3 linked regions of the Homo sapiens genome follow. The protein of the gene in region 1 purifies or fractionates together with the protein of each later gene. This does not show direct contact. Each region holds a gene or a part of one and is shown in the gene's direction. Other genes may lie near its edges. The genes, in order: ZC3H11A, MKRN2 and THOC2.

What was found.
Region 2: the proteins of ZC3H11A (region 1) and MKRN2 purify together in Homo sapiens (affinity purification with mass spectrometry; 2 studies listed by BioGRID and IntAct, with this or other methods). This does not show direct contact.
Region 3: the proteins of ZC3H11A (region 1) and THOC2 purify together in Homo sapiens (affinity purification with mass spectrometry; 2 studies listed by BioGRID and IntAct, with this or other methods). This does not show direct contact.

What each region holds. Positions count from the first base shown.
Region 1 is NC_000001.11:203,798,468-203,806,080, forward strand, and holds part of ZC3H11A (zinc finger CCCH domain-containing protein 11A), read left to right. Parts: coding exon of another isoform or gene 1-1,995; exon of another isoform or gene 1,996-3,107; 5' UTR 3,108-3,626; coding exon of another isoform or gene 3,627-3,725; 5' UTR 3,726-4,549; intron 4,550-7,613. Other genes in the region: ZBED6 (zinc finger BED domain-containing protein 6), read left to right, coding at 1-1,995; uncharacterized LOC128031836, read left to right, coding at 3,627-3,725. UniProt on the Homo sapiens protein: Through its association with TREX complex components, may participate in the export and post-transcriptional coordination of selected mRNA transcripts, including those required to maintain the metabolic processes in embryonic cells.
Region 2 is NC_000003.12:12,573,543-12,581,155, forward strand, and holds part of MKRN2 (E3 ubiquitin-protein ligase makorin-2), read left to right. Parts: intron 1-1,249; coding exon 1,250-1,464; intron 1,465-3,088; coding exon 3,089-3,199; intron 3,200-7,613. UniProt on the Homo sapiens protein: E3 ubiquitin ligase catalyzing the covalent attachment of ubiquitin moieties onto substrate proteins.
Region 3 is NC_000023.11:123,722,787-123,730,399, reverse strand, and holds part of THOC2 (THO complex subunit 2), read left to right. Parts: intron 1-7,613. UniProt on the Homo sapiens protein: Component of the THO subcomplex of the TREX complex which is thought to couple mRNA transcription, processing and nuclear export, and which specifically associates with spliced mRNA and not with unspliced pre-mRNA.

The sequences.
Region 1 (7,613 bases):
ATCCATTGGGCTGTTGCCAACAAAGACAGTGGTGCTGTTGCAAATGGATTAGATGAAGCTGAGACTGAGAGAAGTGATCTCTTGAGTGATACCTTGCATGGAGAAAAGTCTACAGGCAGCCAAGATTTAACAGCTGAGGACCTTAGTGACTCTGATTCAGATGAACCTATGTTAGAGGTTGAAAACAGATCTGAAAGTCCTATTCCCGTTGCAGAGCAAGGCACTCTGATGCGTGCGCAGGAGAGAGAAACAACATGTTGTGGAAATCCAGTCTCAAGTCACATAAGTCAGGCAATTATCCAAATGATTGTGGAGGATATGCATCCTTACAACTATTTCTCAACCCCAGCCTTTCAGAGGTTCATGCAGATTGTGGCCCCTGATTATAGGTTGCCATCAGAGACTTACTTTTTCACTAAGGCTGTACCTCAGTTATATGATTGTGTCAGAGAAAAAATTTTCTTAACTTTAGAGAATGTTCAAAGCCAAAAGATACACCTGACTGTTGACATATGGACCCATGACCCATCCACTGACTATTTTATTGTGACTGTACACTGGGTTTCTTTGGAAACTGCGTCTTTTCTCAATAATGGCAGGATCCCCGATTTTAGAAAGTGGGCAGTGCTTTGTGTTACAGGTTTGGCTAAAGACTGTTTGATAACCAATATTTTACAAGAATTAAATGACCAGATTGGTCTGTGGCTTTCTCCAAATTTCCTTATCCCTAGCTTCATTGTTTCTGACAATTCCTCTAATGTGGTACATGCAATCAAAGATGGTGGTTTTACCCATGTGCCATGCTTCCTGCATTGTTTAAATATGGTCATTCAGGACTTTTTCTGCGAGCACAAAAGCATTGAGAATATGTTAGTGGCTGCCAGGAAAACTTGTCATCATTTTAGTCATTCGGTCAAGGCCCGTCAGATACTGCAAGAGTTCCAAAATGATCACCAACTTCCATGGAAGAATTTGAAGCAGGACGAAACTGGCCATTGGATTTCTACTTTTTATATGTTAAAATGGCTCTTGGAGCATTGCTACTCAGTTCACCATAGTCTTGGTAGAGCCAGTGGAGTTGTGCTCACCTCCCTTCAGTGGACTCTAATGACTTATGTTTGTGATATTCTTAAGCCATTTGAGGAGGCTACCCAGAAAGTGAGCGTGAAGACCGCAGGATTGAATCAGGTGCTACCCCTAATCCATCATCTACTCCTTTCCCTGCAGAAACTCAGAGAAGATTTTCAAGTCAGAGGTATTACTCAGGCCCTCAATCTGGTGGATAGTTTATCTCTGAAACTTGAAACAGATACCCTACTAAGTGCCATGCTTAAATCCAAGCCCTGTATCTTGGCTACTTTGTTAGATCCTTGCTTTAAAAACAGTTTGGAAGACTTTTTTCCTCAAGGTGCTGATTTAGAAACTTATAAGCAGTTCCTTGCAGAAGAGGTCTGTAATTATATGGAATCTTCACCAGAGATCTGCCAAATTCCAACTTCAGAAGCTTCTTGTCCCTCAGTTACAGTGGGAGCTGATTCATTTACCTCATCTCTAAAAGAAGGCACCTCCAGTTCAGGTTCTGTTGATAGCTCAGCTGTAGACAATGTTGCCCTTGGAAGCAAAAGCTTCATGTTCCCTTCTGCTGTAGCAGTTGTGGATGAGTACTTCAAAGAGAAGTATTCAGAGTTCTCAGGAGGTGATGACCCTTTAATTTACTGGCAGAGGAAGATAAGCATATGGCCGGCTTTGACCCAGGTTGCCATCCAGTATCTAAGTTGCCCCATGTGTAGTTGGCAATCTGAATGTATCTTTACTAAAAATAGCCACTTTCATCCAAAACAGATCATGAGCCTGGACTTTGACAATATAGAACAACTGATGTTTCTGAAAATGAACTTGAAAAATGTTAACTACGATTATTCTACGTTGGTTCTGAGCTGGGATCCTGAGCAGAATGAAGTTGTTCAAAGCAGTGAAAAAGAAATACTGCCTTAATTTCTTTTTCTCCATTTAAAATGGGCAACTTTTTGCTGTGTTACTGTATCTTAATAGCTGTAGTTGTTAAATATAATCATTATCTTTATAAACACATCTGGGGAAACCTGAAATCACACAAGGGCTGAAAATTCCTCAGAGGCAATATAATTTTGATAAAATGAAGATTAAAGATTTCATAGCTATAACTGTGGCGCTAGCACTTGAAAATTTTGCTTATACCAATGAGAGAGAAGATATTTTTAATTAAAAAAAATATAGTGCAGCATTGAAAGGCCTTAGGCTTTCTTCCTGGTAGATTGAACTAGTAATTGGTTTTAAGTAAAACTTCCCCCACCATGGGAAATTTTATTGCTCTGAAATCAACGAAATGAGAAAAAAGTACACTGGCTGGCATTCCTCCTGCCCCTGTTTTTCTGTTTCCTTAAAAACCCTGATGCTTAATTACAACTTGGCAAAAAGAAAACCCGTGAAATTGTTTTATATTTGGAAATTTCTAATTGCCTCCTCATACTGGTCAGCTTTATAATTTCAAATTGTTGAGTGTGATAGTGTTACCCTTTAGAATTGGATCTTATATAAAAGGGAAATATTAGAAAACAATTAGGAAAATATACTTTTAGTCTTTGAAATGCCTGTTTTAACCTTTATAAAATATTATAAAAATAGATTGTGTAGGTACTTTCAAATAATTTATGGGTAAAAACAGACTAAAATGTTTGCAAGAATTGGAAAAGGTTGAATGGGAATTGTAATGAGAGCCCTTTGAACATGCTTGGAAAAACCCAGTAGACATTTCCCAAAGATTGTTTCTGTAATTTTAGGTAATCTTTTTAAAAACATACTTAATGACCCATTATACTGTATTAACTGTGCGGTTGTTTTGGCCACTGAATTCTTAATGAAAACTAAGCAGTCGGTATTTTTATGTGTTAGGAATCATTGGTGAAATGAGTGAATTGATCTCATTTTAAGATCCCTTTCTACTCTGAAAGTATGTTTCTGAGATTGAGTAGGAGGCCAGAAAATGATGACTTTTAGTAAAAGTCTATTAAAAGTTTCAGACTGAATAACTAATGTGAGATCCCAATTTTTCCTTTTTTTCATTTTAGATTTGGGGATATTCCCTGCCCAAAAAATTCCTGGAAAATTGACTAGTATTAAGTGTGAGTAAAAGGTGTCCACTTTTTTTTAAGTTTTGATTTTAGTTTTGTCTTGGATAGTATTTGGCAAGATTTAGCCTAGAAATTATGTAGTATTTATTACATAAGAATCAAAATTGCTTTGTTACTGGGCTGGTTTCAAAGTTTAGAACTCATTTCTATGTATCAAAATCGGGTTTTTTTTGGTTTTGATTTTTTTTTTTTTTAAATTCTTAAATGGTAAATATGCCATTGTGAAATGAAATCTCAACTCCAAAAGTTTACCCTTTTACTAACTGGAGTAAATGTATACTTACAAAGTCTTTAGCTGTAGCCATTAGTAGTAAAGAATTTGGACCTAGGCTGCGTAAGCAAGCCTTTCCAGGGCCACTATTTAATGGCAAACCAGTGATACTGGTGTTGATACAAAATAAGAAATAAATTTTCCCTTAGATAAAGCTTTCTGTGTTTTGACAGTGCCAGTTTAGAATGGCTATAATGCTGCTCTGCCTTCTACAGCTTGCTGCACCACTCTGTAGTTACTCTATTACCATACGTTTCTATCTTTTTTGGTTAAACACTCCCTGATGACGATGATGGATATATATACATACATCCATATTATACATAATGATATATGTGTAAGGATTTACCTTCGTCTTTATTTTGTGGGCTGGGCAAAATTTAGTGTAACAATAACTTCATGATACTTTGGTATAAGAGTAAGTTCTTTATTTTTATAATGAACCCAAATCTAAAGTCTTTTATAGTGCATTTTAAAAGGGGAAACTTATCCAAATGTTATATTTCTATACATTTTTGTGTATATGTGTGTGTGTATAAGCCAGTTAGTATATATCTGTATGTATATTATATACATAAAACACTATATTTTTACATACAAGTATGCTTTTATTATACAGATAATAAAGATGGGGGAAGGTTTCTGTTTTTTTCTTAATAGGTGAAGAAATCTTGAAGACCAGAAATTGGATCTTACTGAAAAACTGATGTTTTTTTGTTTTTTTTTTAAATTATATTGTTCAGCTATGGAAGATGGAGTTTTTTTTCATGATCCTTTAACTCTCAAGTTCATCTTTAAATGAACTCTTTTTTTTTGTTTTTTTTTTGTTTTGTTTTGTTTTGTTTTTGAGGAGATAACTAACCCTAGCTGTCTCCAGTCTGACAAAGGTTATTTGAATGGACTTAATCTCCCAGTAGTTGGGAGATGTTTTAAAAACACATGCTGTGTTTGAATTGTGGCTGAGAGGTTTTCTTGGCAATGTGAGGAGGAAATTTTTTTCTGCCTCATTATTATTAATTCATGGATTGAGTGTTGGTTCGACCTACAGGCGTAATAGATTGGAACTCAGTGAAGACACAGATGTTCCTGTTCAGAGCAACCAGCTAATGTAAGTGGGGAAGCAGGCATTTTTCGCATGAAAGGAGTGAACATTCTTGTCATTTAAGGCATAATTTTCATGGATCAGTAAGAAATTAAAAGGCCATTGTTCAGACATTTTTGCTTGTACATAATTGTTTACAAATTTTTAGTTTTGGGATGGAAACATATTTTTTTCTTTCTTTTCTTTTTTTCTTTTTTGGAGACGGAGTTTTACTCTTGTCCCCTAGGCTGGAGTGCAATGGTGCCATCTTGGCTCACTGCAACCTCCTCCTCCCAGGTTCAAGCAGTTCTCCTGCCTCAGCCTCCTGGGTAGCTGGGATTACAGATGTGCACCACTACACCGGATAATTTTTGTATTATTAGTGGAGATGAAGTTTCACCATCTTGGCCAGGCTGGTCTGGAATTCCTGACCTCAGGTGATCCACCAGCCTCAGCCTCCCAAAGTGCTGGGATTACAGGCATGAGCCACCGCCTCTGGCCCATAGTTTTTCTTTCTTTGTTTTGATAATATATGTACATTGTAAAAAAGGTAAAAACAGCATAGCCAAAGTGAAATCTTCCTGTAATTCCATCTCCTTGGAGAAAAGCACTGGGTTATTTTGTTTCGTTTTGAAACAGGGTCTTGTGCTCTGTCACTGAGGCTGGAGTGCAGTGGCATGATCATAGCTCACTGCAACGTCAAACCCCTGGGCTTAAGAGATCCTATTGCCGAAGCCTCCTGAGTAGCTGGAACTACAGGTGTGCCCCACTGTACCTGGCTACTTTTTAAAACCTTTTGTAGAGATGGAGTTGCTCTGTGTTGCCCAGGCTGTTCTCAAACTCCTGGGTTCAAGCAGTCTTCCTGCCTTGGCCAACCAGTGTTGGGATTACAGGTGTGAGCCACCATGCCTGGCCTCCCATTCCTTTTTAAATAATGATTCTAGATGATTTTATAATCAAGTTCCAGTAATAAACTCTAATTGGGATTTTGACTTGAATTACATTCGATGTGTGCATTATTTTTTGGGGAGAAGTAATTTCTTTAATCCTCTATTTATTCATTATCCAGGTCTTCTGTGCCTTAGTAGTTTCATAGTGTTTTGGTTTTGTTTTTAATTTAATGTGGGTCTTGCATACTTCTTCATTTTCTTCCTGTATATGTGTTTTTTTTTTTTTTTTTGAGACAGAGTCTCGCTCTGTCGCCCAGGCTGGAGTGCAGTGGCGTGATCTCGATTCACTGCAAACTCCGCCTCCCGGGTTCACGCCATTCTCCTGCCTCAGCCTCCCGAGTAGCTGGGACTACAGGCACCCGCCACCTCGCCTGGCTAACTTTTTTGTATTTTTAGTAGAGACGGGGTTTCACCGTGTTAGACAGGATGGTCTCCATCTCCTGACCTCGTGATCCGCCCGCCTCGGCCTCCCAAAGTGCTAGGATTACAAGCATGAGCCACCACGCCCGGCCCTTCCTGTATATCTTTTTATTGTGAATGGTCTCTTCCTGTATATCTTTTTACTGTGAGTGGTACTCTGCCATCATCTGAATGATTATTGCTGGTATGAAGGAAATTTACTGCTTCTTGTAGATCTTACATTTTTATTATTTTCAATTTGTTTTAGTTGATAGATTTTCTAGTTTGCAAGCATGTAATCTGCAGGTTCTGGATTTTTTTCTTTTTTGCCTCATCTTTTTTTTTTTTTTTGATATGGAGTATTGCTCTCGTTGCCTAGGCTGGAGTGCAATGGTGCTGTCTTGGCTCATTGCAACCTCTGCCTTCCAGGTTCAAGTGATTCTTCTGTCTCAGCCTCCCAAGTAGCTGAGATTACAGGCGCATGCCACCATGCCCGGCTGATTTTTGTATTTTTAGTAGAGATGGGGTTTCATCATATTGGCCAGGCTGGTCTCAAACTCCTGACCTCAGGTGATCTGCCCAACTCGGCCTCCTAAAGTGCTGGGATTACAGGCGTGAGCTATTGTGCCCGGCCTGTCTCGTCTTTTTAATATATGTTTGTAATTTATGCCTTTTTTTCCTTTTGAAAAAATTGAGTAAATAAATGTCCTATTCATCAAATATCAAGAAATATTCATTATTGATTTCAAGATGTAGTATTAAGGAAACCACAGAATCAAAATACCCACTTCTGATACAGTAGTGATTTTTTTTTTTTTTTTTGAGACAGAGTCTTGCTCTGTCGCCCAGGCTGTGGGGTGATCTTGGCTCACTGGACCTCCGCCTCCTGGGTTCAAGCAATTCTCCTGCTTCAGTCTCCCGAGAGTAGGACTACAGGCGCCCGCCACCACACCCGGCTAATTTTTTGTATTTTTAGTAGAGATGGGGTTTCACCATGTTGGCCAGGCTGGTCTCGAACTTCTGACCTTGTGATCTGCCTGCCTCAGCCTTTCAAAGTGCTGGGATTACAGGTGTGAGCCACCGCGCCCTGCCAGAATCAAGTTTTAGTACAAAGAAAGCATTTCCCAAGCAATGAGTCTCAAAGGAAAAAAATAGAAGAGCAATGTAATTAAACTTTCCTTCAAAGAAAGGACAGAAACGTATCTGTTACGGTAAATTTGGAAAGATCAGTATTTCATAGTCCCATAATATGTTTTACATGATGTACTTAAATGCAAATGTATGAAGCAGGGATCTGTGGCAATCCAAATTCATCCACCAGAACTCCATCCTTGTTTTTGTGACAGTGGGAACACCTTCTGGAATTGCAGGTGCAGATGCTGGCTCATCTAAATAGAACTCTTGGTCAGCCACAAGCTCATCACCCAGTGTATCCAACTCTGCTTCTAGGTTGTCTTCATCTAATTCTGGGCCGCCATAACTGCGACTCAGTGCTTCTTGGATTTCATTTGCATCTTCCATCATGTCCACTAGCTGGTCTTGTAAATTCTCAATCTGGTCAGTTTTCACTTGCTTGTCTACCTTCATTTCCTTTGCTCCCAGTTTCATAGCATCAACCGTGGTCTTGGTATCCTTCAATGACTGGATGGTGTAATTAACTTGTTTCATGTTGAATGACTCTTGGGTGCGATTGTCCTGCTGCTGCTCATACATCCGCTTTTGTTTTAAAACTCGCAAGGCTT
Region 2 (7,613 bases), on another chromosome or scaffold:
TAATAATAAAAAAATTTAAAAATGCCAGGTGTGGTGGCTTGGCTAACTTTTAAAATTTTATTTTATTTTGGCTGGGCACAGTGGCTCACGCCTGTAATCCCAGCACTTTGGGAGGACGAGGCAGGCGGATCACAAGGTCAGGAGATTGAGACCATCCTGGCTAACATGGTGAAACCCCGTCTCTACTAAAAATACAAAAAGTTAACTGGGTGTGGTGGCGGGCGCCTGTAGTCCCAGCTACTTGGGAGGCTGAGGCAGGAGAATAGTCTGAACCCAGGAGGTGGAGCTTGCAGCGAGCTGAGATTGCACCACCGCACTCCAGCCTGGACGACAGAGAGAGACTCTGTCTCAAAAAAAAAAAAAAATTATTTTATTTTTCAGAGGTGAGGTCTTGCTATGTTGCTTAGGCTGGTCTTGAACTCCTGAGATCAAGCAGTCCTCTTACCATGGCCTCCCAGAGTAATGGGATTACAGGTGTGAGCCACTGCACCTGGCCTAAGGCATGTTTAAATGGACAGCGTATTCCTAGATAATCAAGAGGTAAATTAGTACTGACTCCATGTGGCAGCGGACAAGGAGACACTCTCCATTGTCTTCCAGGGAAGCAGAGGGTTAGAGCTGTCTTCTTTATGCAAGTGTGTGAGGTCTCTGCGGTGAGTGTTGGCTTGTCTCAGATCTGGACAGACTGAGCTTACAAGGGCTGGGCCTAGGTCTTCTCACTCTTGCTCAAATGCCAGCACATAGAAGGAATTCAGGGCATGCCTAGTGAATGAATGAATTCATTGAATCATTTTCTTGGGGAGAAGTGGTGCTTCTTACATAGGACTAGGCTGCCAGCCTCAAGCCTCATGGTAAGGACGAGTCAGCATCTCTGATGTAGACATGGCTCAGAGTCGGGGGAAACAGTGCCCAGAGGAGCTGGGGGACTAGGGCCGCAGTCCTTACGGACTCTGACTCCACTGCAGTTTAACCTTTTTGGATCTCCGTGTTCTCAGTCCTAAATGGGTGGTGACCATGTCACCTCCTAGGAAAGCAAGGGGCTGGACCAGTGATGGTTTGAAGTCCTTTGTGTGGTCTGAGGGAGATGTCAGTGTCCTGACTTGGGGGAGCCTGGGCCTTTGCTCACAGCAGTCGCTGTCAGTGTTCCTTCCTGATCTCAGCTGTGGCAGTGTGGCTGCAGCTACTCCTAGGGCTCCTGCCACTCCTCAGTGGCCCACAACCAAAGCCTTCCTTCCTGTCTGTGCTTCAGATCTGCATGTTGACGTTCGAACACGAGATGGAAAAGGCCTTTGCCTTCCAGGCAAGCCAGGACAAAGTGTGCAGTATCTGCATGGAAGTGATCCTGGAGAAGGCCTCTGCTTCTGAGAGGAGATTTGGGATTCTCTCCAATTGCAATCACACGTACTGTTTGTCCTGCATCCGGCAGTGGCGGTGTGCCAAACAGTTTGAAAACCCAATCATTAAGTAAGTACAGCCAGGGGTCTTAGCTGTGGGAGCTAGGAGAATGTTTGATTTGAGACTTTATTCCGTCCACTTTTAAGCCCTCCGTTACCCTCAAGAGTAACTGGTGAGTTCTGGCCCCTGGCTGCATGAACTTCAGCAAGTCATTTACTCTTCCTGAGCCTAAGTGCCTGTTCCTATAAAAGATGGGCAACAATTCCTACCAAGCTTTCTGGGTGTTGGGGAGGAACTCAGCAAAGATGATCTGTGTAAAAAGGTGTTAAATGGCACTGACCTGTTTTCATCTCCTAGCCTTGTGTTTGAAATCCAGTAGTACCTGCCTGTAGCCCAGTTGCCTGTTAATCATTTTGAGCTTCGTTTTTTCCCCCCACCAAAAACGAAAATAGGGTTATTTGAGGATGAAGTGGAATAATGCATGTAAAACATTCTGCATGATGCCTGGCACATGGGATGTGCTCAATGTGGCCAACATAGGAGTCTCAAATTCTCCAGCAGGACAGGGGAAGAGCTGGCATGTGGAGAGGTTACTGCACGCGTTCTACTGTTCAGAACTCCACATCTGTCCGCTCATCTCATTCCCTCAAAGACCCTCCTCAGTTACAGATTAGGAAACAGGCCTGGGGTGCGGGGGTCAAGTAATTTGCCTAAAATCGTGTGGTGAAACAACTGCTCTATTGAGATAAAAGCCCACAATTTAACTCACCACTCATCCGCTTTCTGTCTCTACAGAGTTGCCTATTCTGGACACTTCTTATAAATGGAATCATAGAATTTGGGGCCTTTTGTGCCTGGCCCCTTTCACTGAGCATAGTGTTGTCAGAGTTCATCCCGACTGTAGCATGTGCCAGAGTCCCCTTCTCCTGGCGGAATATGTTCCATTGTATGGACGCAGCACATTTCCCTTATCCATTCCTCAGCTAGTGGACATTTAGGCTGTTTTAACTTTGCAACTATTATGAATAATGCTGCTGTCAACATTTGTGAACACAGCATGTGGGCATGTGTTTTCATTTCTCTTGGGTATACACCTGGGCGTGGGATTGCTAGGTTTTATGGTATAATAACTCTACATTAAACTGTTGGAGAATCTGCCAGACTCTGTTCAAAGTGGCTGCACCCTTTTACATTCTCACCAGCAATGTATGAGGGTTATTTCATCTGTCTTTTTTGTTGAGGAAACCATATATGTGTGTGTGTGTGTGTGTGTGTGTGTGTGTGTGTGTGTGTATTTTTTTTGCTTTAAGTTCTGGGGTACATGTGCAGAATGTGTAGCTTTGTTACATGGGTATCCATGTGCCACGGTGGTTTTCTGCACCTCTCAACCCATCACCTAGGTTTTCAGCCATGCATGCATTAGCTGTTTGTGCTGATGTTCTCCCTCCCCTTGCCCCTGCACCGACAGGCCCCGGTGTGTGATGTTCCCCCACATGTGTCCATGTGTTCTCATTGGGAAACCCTATTTTGTTAATAGTAAATAAGGTTCTTGGATGATTGTGATTTCATCTTTTGGAATTTCTGGTGAAGGAAATGCCTGTAGTGGTGAGGCAGTTGAGCAAGAGGTTTAGCAGAGAGTGTGCCCAGGCTTCGTAACATGACTTCTCCCTTAGTAATCTAATTCTTATTTCAGGTCTTGTCCAGAATGCCGTGTGATATCAGAGTTTGTAATTCCAAGTGTGTATTGGGTGGAAGATCAGAATAAAAAGAACGAGTTGATTGAAGCTTTCAAACAGGGGATGGGGTAAGTGCTTTTGAGTTTCGACGTGCCCCTGCTGCCTGCCTGGCTCTGCTGTCAGCCCGTGTCCTCGTTCTCCTTCCCAGGAGTGTGGTCTTAGGGGCCTCTTCCTCTCTTCCTTCTCTCAGGCACCATGCTGGGCTCTGGGATGCAGCAATGAGCAAGGACATGGTGATGTGGACCTGTTTAGTTTTGGTGTTTTTTTTTTTTTTTTTTTTTTTTCGGTGAGATAGGGTCTCACTCTGTTGCCCAGGCTGGAGTGCAGTGGTGCAATCTCAGCTCACTGCAGCCTCAGCCTCCTGGGCTCAAGCAGGAGCCTCTTGAGTAGCTGGGGCCACCAGTAGTGTGCGCCACCATGCCCAGCTAATTGGCTAATTTTTTTTGGTAGAGACAAGGTTTCGCCATGTAGCCCAGGCTGGTCTTGAACTCCTAGGCTCAAGTGATCCTCCTGCCTCGGCCTCCCAAAGTGCTGGGATTACAGGCATGAGCCACCGTGCCCGGCCTCAAATGTTCCTCTTTATCCTGGTTGTCAGCATGTTGATATTTTGCCTAGGAGTGGAGTGGTTTTTCTCTACGCTTATGTCACTCCCCAAGATGAGCGAAATTTTAGCTATTGTTTCATTAACTTTTTTTCTGTCTTGTTTTTTTCTTTTCCTGCTGGGACTCTACTTCCGTTTATGATAGTTTTTTTATATTGTTCATAGATCTCTGGGGATATTCATTCTTTTTCAATCTTTTTTTCTTTTCATCTCCTTGAACATAGTTGTAGCAGCTACTTTGAAATCCTTGTTATCTTGAAGTTGACCTCTGTTGTCTTTTAAGAATGGATCACATTTTCCTGATTCTTCGTATGTCTAGTAATTTTAGATTTTATCCTTGACATTGTAAATATTACATTGTAGAGAGACTTAGGATTCTGTTATGGTTTATCTGTAAAGTGATGATTTTTTTTTTTTTGAGACGGAGTTTCACTCTTGTTGCCCAGGCTGGAGTGCAGTGGCACAATCTCGGCTCACTGCAACCTCTGCCTCTCGGGTTCAAGCGATTCTCCTGCCTCAGCCTCCCGAGTAGCAGGGATTACAGGCATGCACCACTGCACCTGGCCAATTTTTTGTATTTTTAGTAGAAACGGGGTTTCACCATGTTAGCCTGGCTGGTCTCAAACTCCTGACCTCAGGTGATCCGCCCACCTCGGCCTCCCAAAGTGCTGGGATTACAGGCATGAGCCACTGCGCCTGGCCAAGTGTTGCTGTTTTTAACAGGCAGGTAAATTGTTTGAACTCAAACCCAGGTAGCAGTTCAGATCTCAGTTCTGGTTTTGCATTCGTAGCTGACTTTGTCGCATTCCTGTGTGGTTTGGGAGTTAGTCAGATTTGGGCAGAGTTTATACACAGCCTTTGAGCACTTTTTCACAGGCCCCTTACTTTGTGGGATTGCTTCCTCACTTTCCAATGGCTGTGATTTCCTTGAACTCTTGTCTTTTAGTTCTTCAGGCCAGAAAGATTGGATTTCCCCTTGGAGTTTTAGCCACCCCATGTGGTTATGATTTTGGCCTGCTCCAGGATAAGAGCTACTTCTTTTTTTTTTTTTTTTTTTTTTTTTGGAGATGGAGTCTTGCTTTGTAGCCCAGGCTGGAGTGCAGTGGCACAGTCTCAGCTCACTGCCACCTCCGCCTTCCAGGTTCAAGCACTTCTGCCTCAGCCTCCCAAGAAGGTGGGACTACAGGCGCATGCCGCCACGCCTGGCTAATTTTTGTATTTTAGTAGAGACAGGGTTTCACTGTGTTTCCCAGGCTGGTCTTGAACTCCTGAGCTCAGGCAATCCACCTGCCTCGGCCTCCCAAAATGCTGGGATTACAGATGTGAGCCACAAAAGCTACCTTTTTTAAAAAAGGTAACTTAGCCTTTGCCATTGCTATTCTTCTTTGTGTTTACTCCTCCAAAGAATCTAACTGCGTTTGTTCATTCTCTGGTGCCTTCAGGTCTTCTTGAAATATTTGTGTTAAGACTTATCTGCAGGAGGGTTGGGTATGGCAGGCGTTTACTTGTCATACTAAAAGTGAAACTATGCATTACCTTTTTTAATGGTTCCTTTATGTTGCATATTAGTTTACTAAAGCTTGATTTTTTTTTTTTTTTTTTTTTTACCATTTTTTCCTCATACAATCTTCCTGTGTGTCCACAAGAGGGCAAGGCGTGGCAAGCAGAGGGGTCCCAGCTTGTAGAAAAGGGCCCCAGCCTGTAGAAAAGGGTCCCAGCCTGTAGAAAGGGGCTCTGCTGAAAAGCAGTCTGGAGATTGTTATTGCTATTTGGATCTTTCCTTGCTTTGCTTTCCTTTAATGACTGTGTTTTTTGCAATCCACAAACATTTACTGAGTACTCACTATGGGTCAGGTACCTTCTAGCTAAGCACCACTGGGGGATGTAGAGATTAGTAAGACAATTTCTTTTTTCTTTCGAGTCTCGCTCTGTCACCCAGGCTGGCAGTGGCATGATTTCAGCTCACTGCAACCTCCGCCTCCAGGGTTCAAGTGATTCTTCTGCCTCAGCCTCCCGAGTAGCTGGGATTACAGGTGTGCGCCACGACACCCAGCTAATTTTTGTATTTTTTTAGTAGGGATGGGGTTTCGCCATGTTGGCCAGGCTGGTCTTGAACTCCTGGCCTCAGATGATCTACCCACCTCAGCTTCCCAAAGTGCTAGGATTATAGGTGTGAGCCACTGTGCCCCGCCAAGTAAGACAACTTCATGGGAAACTGCAAAAGGGCAATTATGATACAGGTTTGCTGGTGACCAGTTCTTCATGAGGGACCATCTATCACAACAGAGAAAGCACTTGGATCCACCGGGGGCTGCCAGGGGAAGCAGCATGGGAGCCTGAACCATGAAGCAGGAAGCACCTGTCTGTAGGGGGAAGTGATGGAAGGACATGGGCACAGAAGGGTGTAGGTTTTGTGTCTGGGGGACACTGGGAGTGGCTCCTGGCATTGAAACAGGTGTGTAGAAGGATGTGGTGGGACCTACAGACTGGAATCTAAGGGACACTTGAATCCCAGTGTGACCATGGTCTTTAAGAACAGGTTGGGGCCAGGCGCAGTGGCTTATGCCTGTAATCCCAGCACTTTGGGAGGCTGAGGAGGGCAGATTGCTTAAGTCCAGGGGAGACATAGGGAGACCTCATCTCTTTAAAGAAAAAAAAAAGGTTGGGAAGCTCCTCCGTGCTGCTCTGAAGGTGGAAACTGGTGGGAGTGGGAGGGAGGCCAGTGAGGAAGTGGCCCTGGCAGGCAGGCCCCAGAGGCTTCCACAAGTGTGGGAACCCAAAGGAAGGGGAGATTGGGAAGTGATTTGTAAACAGAATGAACACAGTTGGGTGTGAGAGCCGAGGACACAGAGTGAGTCAGAGTGAACTGGAGGCTTTTGGCCTTGGTGACCAGATAAGCCTGGGGGAGGAAAAAGAGTAATATTCTTGTGAGAGTGGGGGACCAGTATATAATGTGTTTGACCTGATCGAGTTCATAGCCAGTGTGCTAGGATGCTCTGGAGTTGTCCAGCAGGCTCTGGTGAGAGCAAACTGCTCACGGTCATTTGAAGTCCGCTCAGAACTCCAGGCAAGCAGGGGCCTGGAGGATGTGTCGTCCACACACCTGCTCTCCAGCCACCTGTGCTCAAATCAGATCAGCTGGCCAGGGAGCTTGTTCTCTCTCCCCCCACCCTACCCCCCCGCCACCACCCCCAGTGAGACGAAGTCTCACTCTGTCTCCCAGGCTGGAGTGCAGTGGCACAATCTTGGCTCACTGCAGCCTCCACCTCCTGGGTTCAAGCAATTCTCCTGCCTCAGCCTCAGCCTCCCGAGTAGCTGGGATTACAGGTGCCAGCCACCACACCCAGCTCATTTGTGTATTTTTAGTAGAGATGGGGTTTCGCTGTGTTGGCCAGGCTGGTCTCAAACTCCTGACCTCAAGTGATCCACCCACCTTGGCCTCCCAAAATGCTGGAATTACAGGTGTGAGCCACCACACCCGGCCAGAGGGCTTTTCTTTATGCTGCTATGAAGCCGTCCTCAGAGAACTTCACCACCGGCCTGCGGCCATCCCATCTGACAAGACGGAAAACCACTGGATTCAGGAGCCTCCTTTCCCTGTTCTTGTCTCCCGCTGTCACACACCCCAGCTGCCCCTGACAGCAGCGTGCCCTTTCTGTTGTTTGGCTTTATTTCTGTGACTTTCCCCTTCCTCTGTACTCCGAGATGGCCCTCTGGATTCTTGGGTATCTTTTTTTTTTTAACTTCAGTTTGGGATCCTTTATGATTGGATAAACCAGAGTTCATTTGAGCAAAATGGGAATTCATTTGATTGAGTTTCCTTGGGCAGGGTTCTTAACATAGAGGTCTGTGGGGAGAATGGTAGAATTAAGAGAGAGGGA
Region 3 (7,613 bases), on another chromosome or scaffold:
TCCAGACAAGCCTGACCAACATGGAGAAACCCCATCTCTACTAAAAGTACAAAATTTGCCGAGCGTGGTGGCACATGCCTGTAATCCCAGCTACTCAGGAGGCTGAGGCGGGAGAATCGCTTGAATCTGGGAGGCGGAAGTTGCGGTGAGCGGAGATCGCGCTGTTGCACTCCAGCATGGGTAACAAGAGCGAAACTCTTTAAAAAAAAAAAAAAAACAAAAACCCAAACAAAAACAAACCAAAAACAACAGCAAAAAAACCTGTTATTAGAACTTACGTGTATGTAGTTATTGCATGACTTGTGGAATGTGGATTGAATTATAGTAGATCCAAATCAGTATAGTCAGTTTTATGATTGCATTCTGTTACAGGAAGAGAATTTAAAATTGTGTAACATAATAAGCTATTTTAAATAGTTAAACACATCACCATCCAGTACTTAGTTTCAGTTTATTTGACCTGTTTTCCCTCTATGAAACTTTGTTGCATATAGCATGTCTTTGGAGTTTTTGTGTCTTCCTAAAGATAGGTGTTAGCATTTTCATATTACTAGGCAGAATACGTGGTGGTGCAAATATATTACAAAAAACCTTTTTCCTTTGTCTGAAAACAGCTTCTGAAATATAAAACAGCAACTGGAAATGTTAAAAATGAAGGTAGTGTGCCACCACATTATTAGTGAAGCTATAGATTTGGCGTTTAGAATATGACCAATATTTAAAATTATACCTTGGGTGAATTTTTCCTTTTTAACAAGATAAATTAGCAGATAAGCTTTAACTTGACTGAAAATTATCTTTTTAAAAATAATGTGATATATTTCATGAGGTTGTTAATTCATTTCTTGTCTGTCACTTCTTACCAGCATAAATCTTTTCTGGGGGTGGTAGTCAGCTAGTGTTGAAAGCAACATAAGAGATGTATGGGGCATTTTATAACTTTCAGATAGGGCAAATTCTTAACTGTACGCCATGAAAAACAACTGTCTATTAAATGGAAGGTCTTGACTTTGAAGAATGTTTTATTAGGTAATTAGAGAGAAAAGTAAAACTGTATTTTGCCTATCTGAATGGTCCATCCATCACATATCTAGATATCCCATTATGTTTCCAGAGATACCAATTATGTTTTTAATGCTAAATTATAGAACTCTTAAAGAGTGACCTTTAAAGTGATCTTAAAGAGGGATCAGAAGGGCAAAGGAGGACTACCAAAATGTAATTGTAATTTCCAATAATACTTATATCTAAATGCAAACTCTTCCAAATTCTGAAAGATATGTATTTAATCACTTAATTTTGGAATTAGTTTTAGTTTCTTGATTATTTTATATTGACGTAGAACTTGCCATGATGAAGCTAATAAACTTGCATGTACTGGTAGATCCAGTGTAGAATTCTGTTTTTGGTAGAAATCATTAACACAGTGAACTCAGCATTTCTTTGTTACAGGCAACCTTAATGGAGAATTGATATTCGAAGCTCTTAATCTGAAGATGCTAGCCTCATGTTAATACTTAGTCTAATTTTGAAATACTTACGTTTGTTGAATATCATCTGTTTGTTTGAATAGCTTATTTAGGTATCAATTAGAAAGTTTTGTTAGGTCTTACCTTATTAATGGTAGTTACAATAAAGTTTTAAAATTTAATTGCCAAATGTTTTGATTGTTGTTCTTTTTCTTCTTCTGCTACTACATGATTTTAGACATTCTAGAACTTATTTAAGTATATTTGGTTGTTCAGAACATGCCATCTGATCTGAATTTCTTGGAGGATTCCAGGTAAAGGGATATAATCATTCTAAGAAATTTTAGTCTTGGTGGTTGAGTCTTTTTTCCTCGCAAAGTTGCTCCAAATTCAGCCAAAGCTTTATCTGAAACCTTTTCTTGATGTCTCAGTTTTCATTTAGCATTTAATTTCCCATTTCGACCTGTATTCATAAGCTAAGTATAAGTCTTAGTCTGTTTTCCTGGGAAGAGAAACATTCTTCACAAAATGTTGAAGCAATGTCAGGAGGTTGTATAGGCTACTACTTTGTTTGTTAAAAAAAATTATTCTGTAATGCTCTAACGTTTAGGTAGGGTGAGTGCTGTCAATATACTTGTGCTTTTTTCCTACTGTAAGTGCGGCAACTCCTGTTGTCTTTTTTTTTTTTAACATTTCCTGTTTCCTTTTCTTTTAAATGCATGTTTCTACAAGATAAAACTGTGTTGTCCCAGTATTCATTTTTGTGGGTTATGTTTCTGTTCTACAAATGATAATAGAGGTAGCACTTTATTTAACTACATTTAACCTTTTTGTTGTCTTGTTTTAAAGAATTAAGTGAAGCGTAAATGAACATCAGCCTTCTATATATGAAAGCCACATTTGAGATGTGAGCATAATCAAGTAGTTTAAGCTTGTGACTCTGTTTCCTTTTTACTGGAAAATGGGAACAAGTAAGATGAAAAGCCGTATACTCATGTTAAGAAGTATTCACAAAATACCTTTTAAGTCCTTGAAGGAACTTCAGACATTTTATTCAGTTTTCCATACATCTTTTGACAGAAAGTAGATTCTGTCCTCATTCTCAGGGACCTGAGACAGCATCTCCATAATAGCACTAAACTATTTTAAAAGTAGAAAAAATGAATGCCTGGCGTGGTGGCATGTAAGGTGGTGTGCACTGTGGCACACACCTGTAATCCCAGCTACTTGGGCAACTGAGGCAGGAGGAAGGATTGCCTGAGCCCAGGAGAGCTCTGGGCGACATAGCGAGAACCTATCTCTATTTTTATTTTTAAAAAATTAAATTAAAAAGTGGAAAAATGGTAAACTCAAGTATTTGAAAGTTATTAAGGGATTAAAATAATTTCAATTTGGACTGAGACAGAAAATTTGATTATTTTTAAGCGATATTAAAGTGGGCAACTATTAGAGGTAGTTTTGTTTTTTCCTCTCCCTATAATTTAGGTTAGTGACCTAAAACCATTAGGCAGGTGTATAGTAAGACAAATGTAATGTTCAGAAACAGTTTCTTTAAGAATCCTTGGTGGACTTCTATTAGTGAATTACTTAGGGAGAAGAGCACAGATACATCTACTTGTTGGGGAAAAATCTCAGTGTTTGTTTTTAGTTTCTTGTTATAACTAAGGAATACCTGTTTTTTTTTTATTAAAAAATTTATTTTTAACTAAGTTTTTTTTGAGACAGGGTCTTGCTTTGTCACCTAGGCTGGAGTGCAGGCGATCACGGCTCACTGCAGGCTTGACCCCACCAGGCTCAAGGGATTTTCCTGCCTCAGCCTCCTGAATTGCTAGGGCTACAGGTGCATGCCACCATGCCTGGCTAATTAAAAACATTTTTTTGTGCGGGTGTATGAGTAGGGATGGGGTTTTGCTATATTGCCCAGGCTGGTCATAAACTCCTGGCTTCAAGTGATCCTCCCCCCTCAGCCTCCCAAAGTGCTGGGATTACAGGCATGAGCCACTACGCCCAGCCAAAGGAATACCTCTTTTATACTAGGGAAATGTAAGTATCTATTATGCAAACAAATTGCCTTATTGTAATAACCTTTCAATGGTTCCATATGCAACTTGAGCAAATCTTTGAGATTCTAACTAATAGTTCATGATGACATTGTCATCTGTGTCCTAATGAACATGTTTGTAGCCTGGTGACTGACAATATAGAATTATATTTCAATTATTTCTTAAAGTTATGTAATGATGACTGTACCATTAGTCTAGGTAGGAGTTTGCAACACTGATGCAACCTCTTCCCCGCAACCATTGGAAGGCTTTTTGCAAAAGACATGCATTAAGATTGTTAAATAGAAATGAAACTATTGAAAATGTGAGGAAGCAAGTGCATTGTTATAAGGAGAAGTTTTTTTTTTTTTTTTTTGAGACAGGGTCTCACTCTGTTGCCCAGGCTGGAGTGCAGTGGCACGATCTTGGCTCACTGCAGCCTTGACCTCCTGGGCTCAAGTGAATAAGGAGGAATTTTAAACAATTATTTTATTTCTCTTTCTTTCTCATCCTTTCCTTTTCCTTTCCTCTTTTTCTTTTTTCTCTTTTTCTATATGAAGGAATATTTGAAATTGCATTTTAGTAGCCCGAGTACAAAGGGAAAGATGAGTTACTTTATTCTGTTAAATTCTTCTTTCAAAGACATGGTGCTTCCTGCTATTATTATTATTATTTTTTTTGAGACAGAGTCTCACTCTGTCGCCCAGGCTGGAGTGCAGTGGTGCGATCTCGACCCACTACAACCTCCGCTTCCTGGGTTCAGGTGATTCTCCTGCCTCAGCTTCCTGAGTAGCTGGGATTACAGGCATTGGCCACCAAGCCCGGCTAATTTTTGTAGTTTTAGTAGAGACGGGGTTTCACCATATTGGCTAGGCTAGTCTCAAACTCTTGACCTCAAGTAATCTGCCCTCCTCGGCCTCTTAAAAGTGCTGGGATTATAGGTGTGAGCCACGGTGCCTGGCCCCTGCTATTATATTCTAAAGAGAATTGACCCTATAAGGGAAATGAGAACCCAAAGAGGGAATTGTTTTAATACTTCATAGTAAATATTGAAGCAACCTTGATATACTTATATATCTCCTCTCCACAAAAGACCTAGATGGCATTTTTAGGTTATATCTTCTGATGCTAGTCTGAAGCAGATGTTATTTCTGTGTTGCCTGGTGGAAGGAAGATTGATTTTGTTTTATATTCCAGATAAACTTATGTTAGGTTTAACGTATTTTGTGAAATTAGAAGCTTAATCGTGGTTTTTTTTTTTTTTTTTTTTTTGAGATAGGGTCTCACTCTGTTCCCCAGGCTGCCCAGGCTGGAGTGCAGTGGTACTACGATCACCACTCACTGCAGCCTCGACCTGCAGGCTCAAGTGATCCTCCCAGCTCAACCTCCCAAGTAGCTGGGATTATAGGCATGTGCCACCACACTTGGCTACTTTTTTTTTCTATTTTTTTTTTTTTTTTGTAGAGATGGGGTCTCACTTGTTGGCTAGGCTGGCTAGGCTGGTCTTGTACTCCTGTGCTCAAGTGATCCTCCCACTTCGGCCTCCCAAAGTGTTGGGATTACAGGCATGAGCCAGCATATCCAACTTTAACCAGTGTTCTTAACCAACCACTGTTCTCTTCTCAACCCATTAGAAGGCCTGTCTAGTTCTCCAGGGAAGTAGTTGAAAGTACTTGGGATCAAACTTAAACCAGCTTACCATTTGTAAGGTACTCTCAGAATAATTTTTTTAGTGAGAAATGTTTAATAGCTAAATGACATTTTCTTTCTTTGTTTTTGTTTTTGAGATGGGATCTTGCTCTGTCACCCTGGAGTGCAGGCTGGAGTGCAGTGGTGCGATCATGGCTCACTGGTGTGATCTTGGCTCACTGCAGTCTCAACTTCCTGGGCTCTGGCGATCCTCCCACCTCAGCCTCCTGAGTAGCTGGGCCCACAGGCGCGTGCTACCATGCTCTGCTAATTGTTTGTGTTTTTGGTAGAGACAGGGTTTCACCACGTTACGAGGCTGGTCTTGAACTCCTGAGCTCAGGTGATATTACCAGGCTGGTCTCGAACTCCTGAGCTCAAGTGATTCACCCACCTTGGCCTCCCAAAGTGCTGGGATTACAGACGTGAGCTACTATGCCTGGCCTGACATTTTCAAACTAAATATTTAATTTAGTAGATGCTCTCCATTGCCCTTATTTTTTATTTTTATTTTTTCTGAGACAGAGTCTCGCTCTGTTGCCCAGGTTGGAGTGCGGTGATGCAGTCTTGGCTCACTGCAACCTCTGCCTCCTGGGTTCATGCGATTCTCCTGCCTCAGCCTGTAGAGTAGCTGGGATTACAGGTGCGCACCACTGCGTCCAGCTAATTTTTGTATTTTTAGTGGAGACGAGGTTTCATCATGTTGGCCAGGCTGGTCTCAAACTCTTGACCTCAACTGATCCACCCACCTTAGCCTCCCAGAGTTCTGGGACTACAGGTGTGAGCTACAGTGCCCGGCTTCCATTGCCTTTTTATTTTTTGGTTTTGAACATATTTGTGAAACCTAGAAGTGAATTGTTGACCAGCAAAAGTTTACTCTGTTGACTTTTAATAACCTTACCCTGCTCATCCTGATGATAGGGTATTGACATAATCAGAAGGCACAGAGGTGAGCTGCAAGGTTATGTATAATCTGCAAAGTAGATAATCTCTCTGTGGATGATTGTAATCTGGCATCTTATTTAGCCTTAGATGTGATATATAAGCAGGTTCTGTAAGTCTTAAAATTATTTGTTTCATTGACTAGAAAAAGGATTACTAGATATAAAAGAGTAAGAAACTCTTCTATATGAATTCATTGGCTCTCTTTAAAGCCTTGTGCAACATGGAAGAATTTTTTTCTAAATTGTGAAATGTAATGAAAATACAGAGAAGTCATGAAACCTCAATATAGAGCTTAAAATAATCACTGTAAGATGCACCCCCATGTAACTTACACCCAGGTCAAGGCAACATACTGTTTGTTCCCGATCAAACCTTTCCCACCTCTCATGTAGTAAACATTATCCTGACATTTATGGTTTTCCTCTTGATTTTTCTCTTTTTTTAACCTTGCATCTTCAACTCAAAGAAACTTTCTTGATTTTCTTTGCAGTGTCATTACCCAATATGTTTAATTTTTTTCTTGAACTTCATATAAATGAAATCATTGAATATTTATCCTACTGTTTCTGGCTGCTTTTGTTCAACAGTTATGACTTTTAAGATTCATCCATATTGTATGTTTGCAGTTCATTGATTTTCCTTTTTTTTTTAGTTCATTCATTTTCATAGTTGCAAGATACTCCATCGTATACCAGTATTTGTTTATTTTTATGCTGTCTTGTTAAACATTTTTGTTGCGTCTAGTTTTTGGCTATTACTAACAGTGCCAATAGAAACATTATTATACAACAGTTTTGGTGTATACAAGCATGTGTTTTTGTGGAGTATATACTAGGTGTAGAATCTCTGGGTTATAGGTTACACTTTAGCTCTGTTAGATATTGCCAGGCTATTTCAGTGTACACTCCCACCAGCAGTGTATGAGTTGACCTTGTTTCACATTGTCACTATGTTTGATATTGTCAGACTTAAATTTTTTGTAAATATGTATGTAATTTTACTGTGGCTTATATTTCCATGAGCATCTTTTTATATGTTATTGGTCATTTGGAGTACTTCTTTTTTTTTGTTTGTTTGAGACAGAGTCTTGCTCTGTCGCCTAGTTTGGAGTGCGGTGGTGGCGTGATCTTGGCTCACTGCAACCTCTGCCTCCCGAGTTCAAGCGATTCTTGTGCCTCAGCCTCCTGAGTAGCTGGGATTACAGGTGTGTGCCACCACACCTGGCTAATTTTTGTGTTTTTAGTAGAGACAGGGTTTCACCATGTTGGGCAGGCTGGTCTTGAACTCCGGACCTCCGATGATCCGCCCGCCTTGGCCTCCCAAAGTGCTGGGATTACAGACGTGAGCCACCACGCCTGTACTGGAGTTCTTATTTCTTTTTGTGAAAGGTCTCTGTCATATCTTTTGCCTTTTTTGTTATTGAGTTGCTTGAGTTTCTTTCACTGATTTGTAGGGGTTCTTTATATAGTCT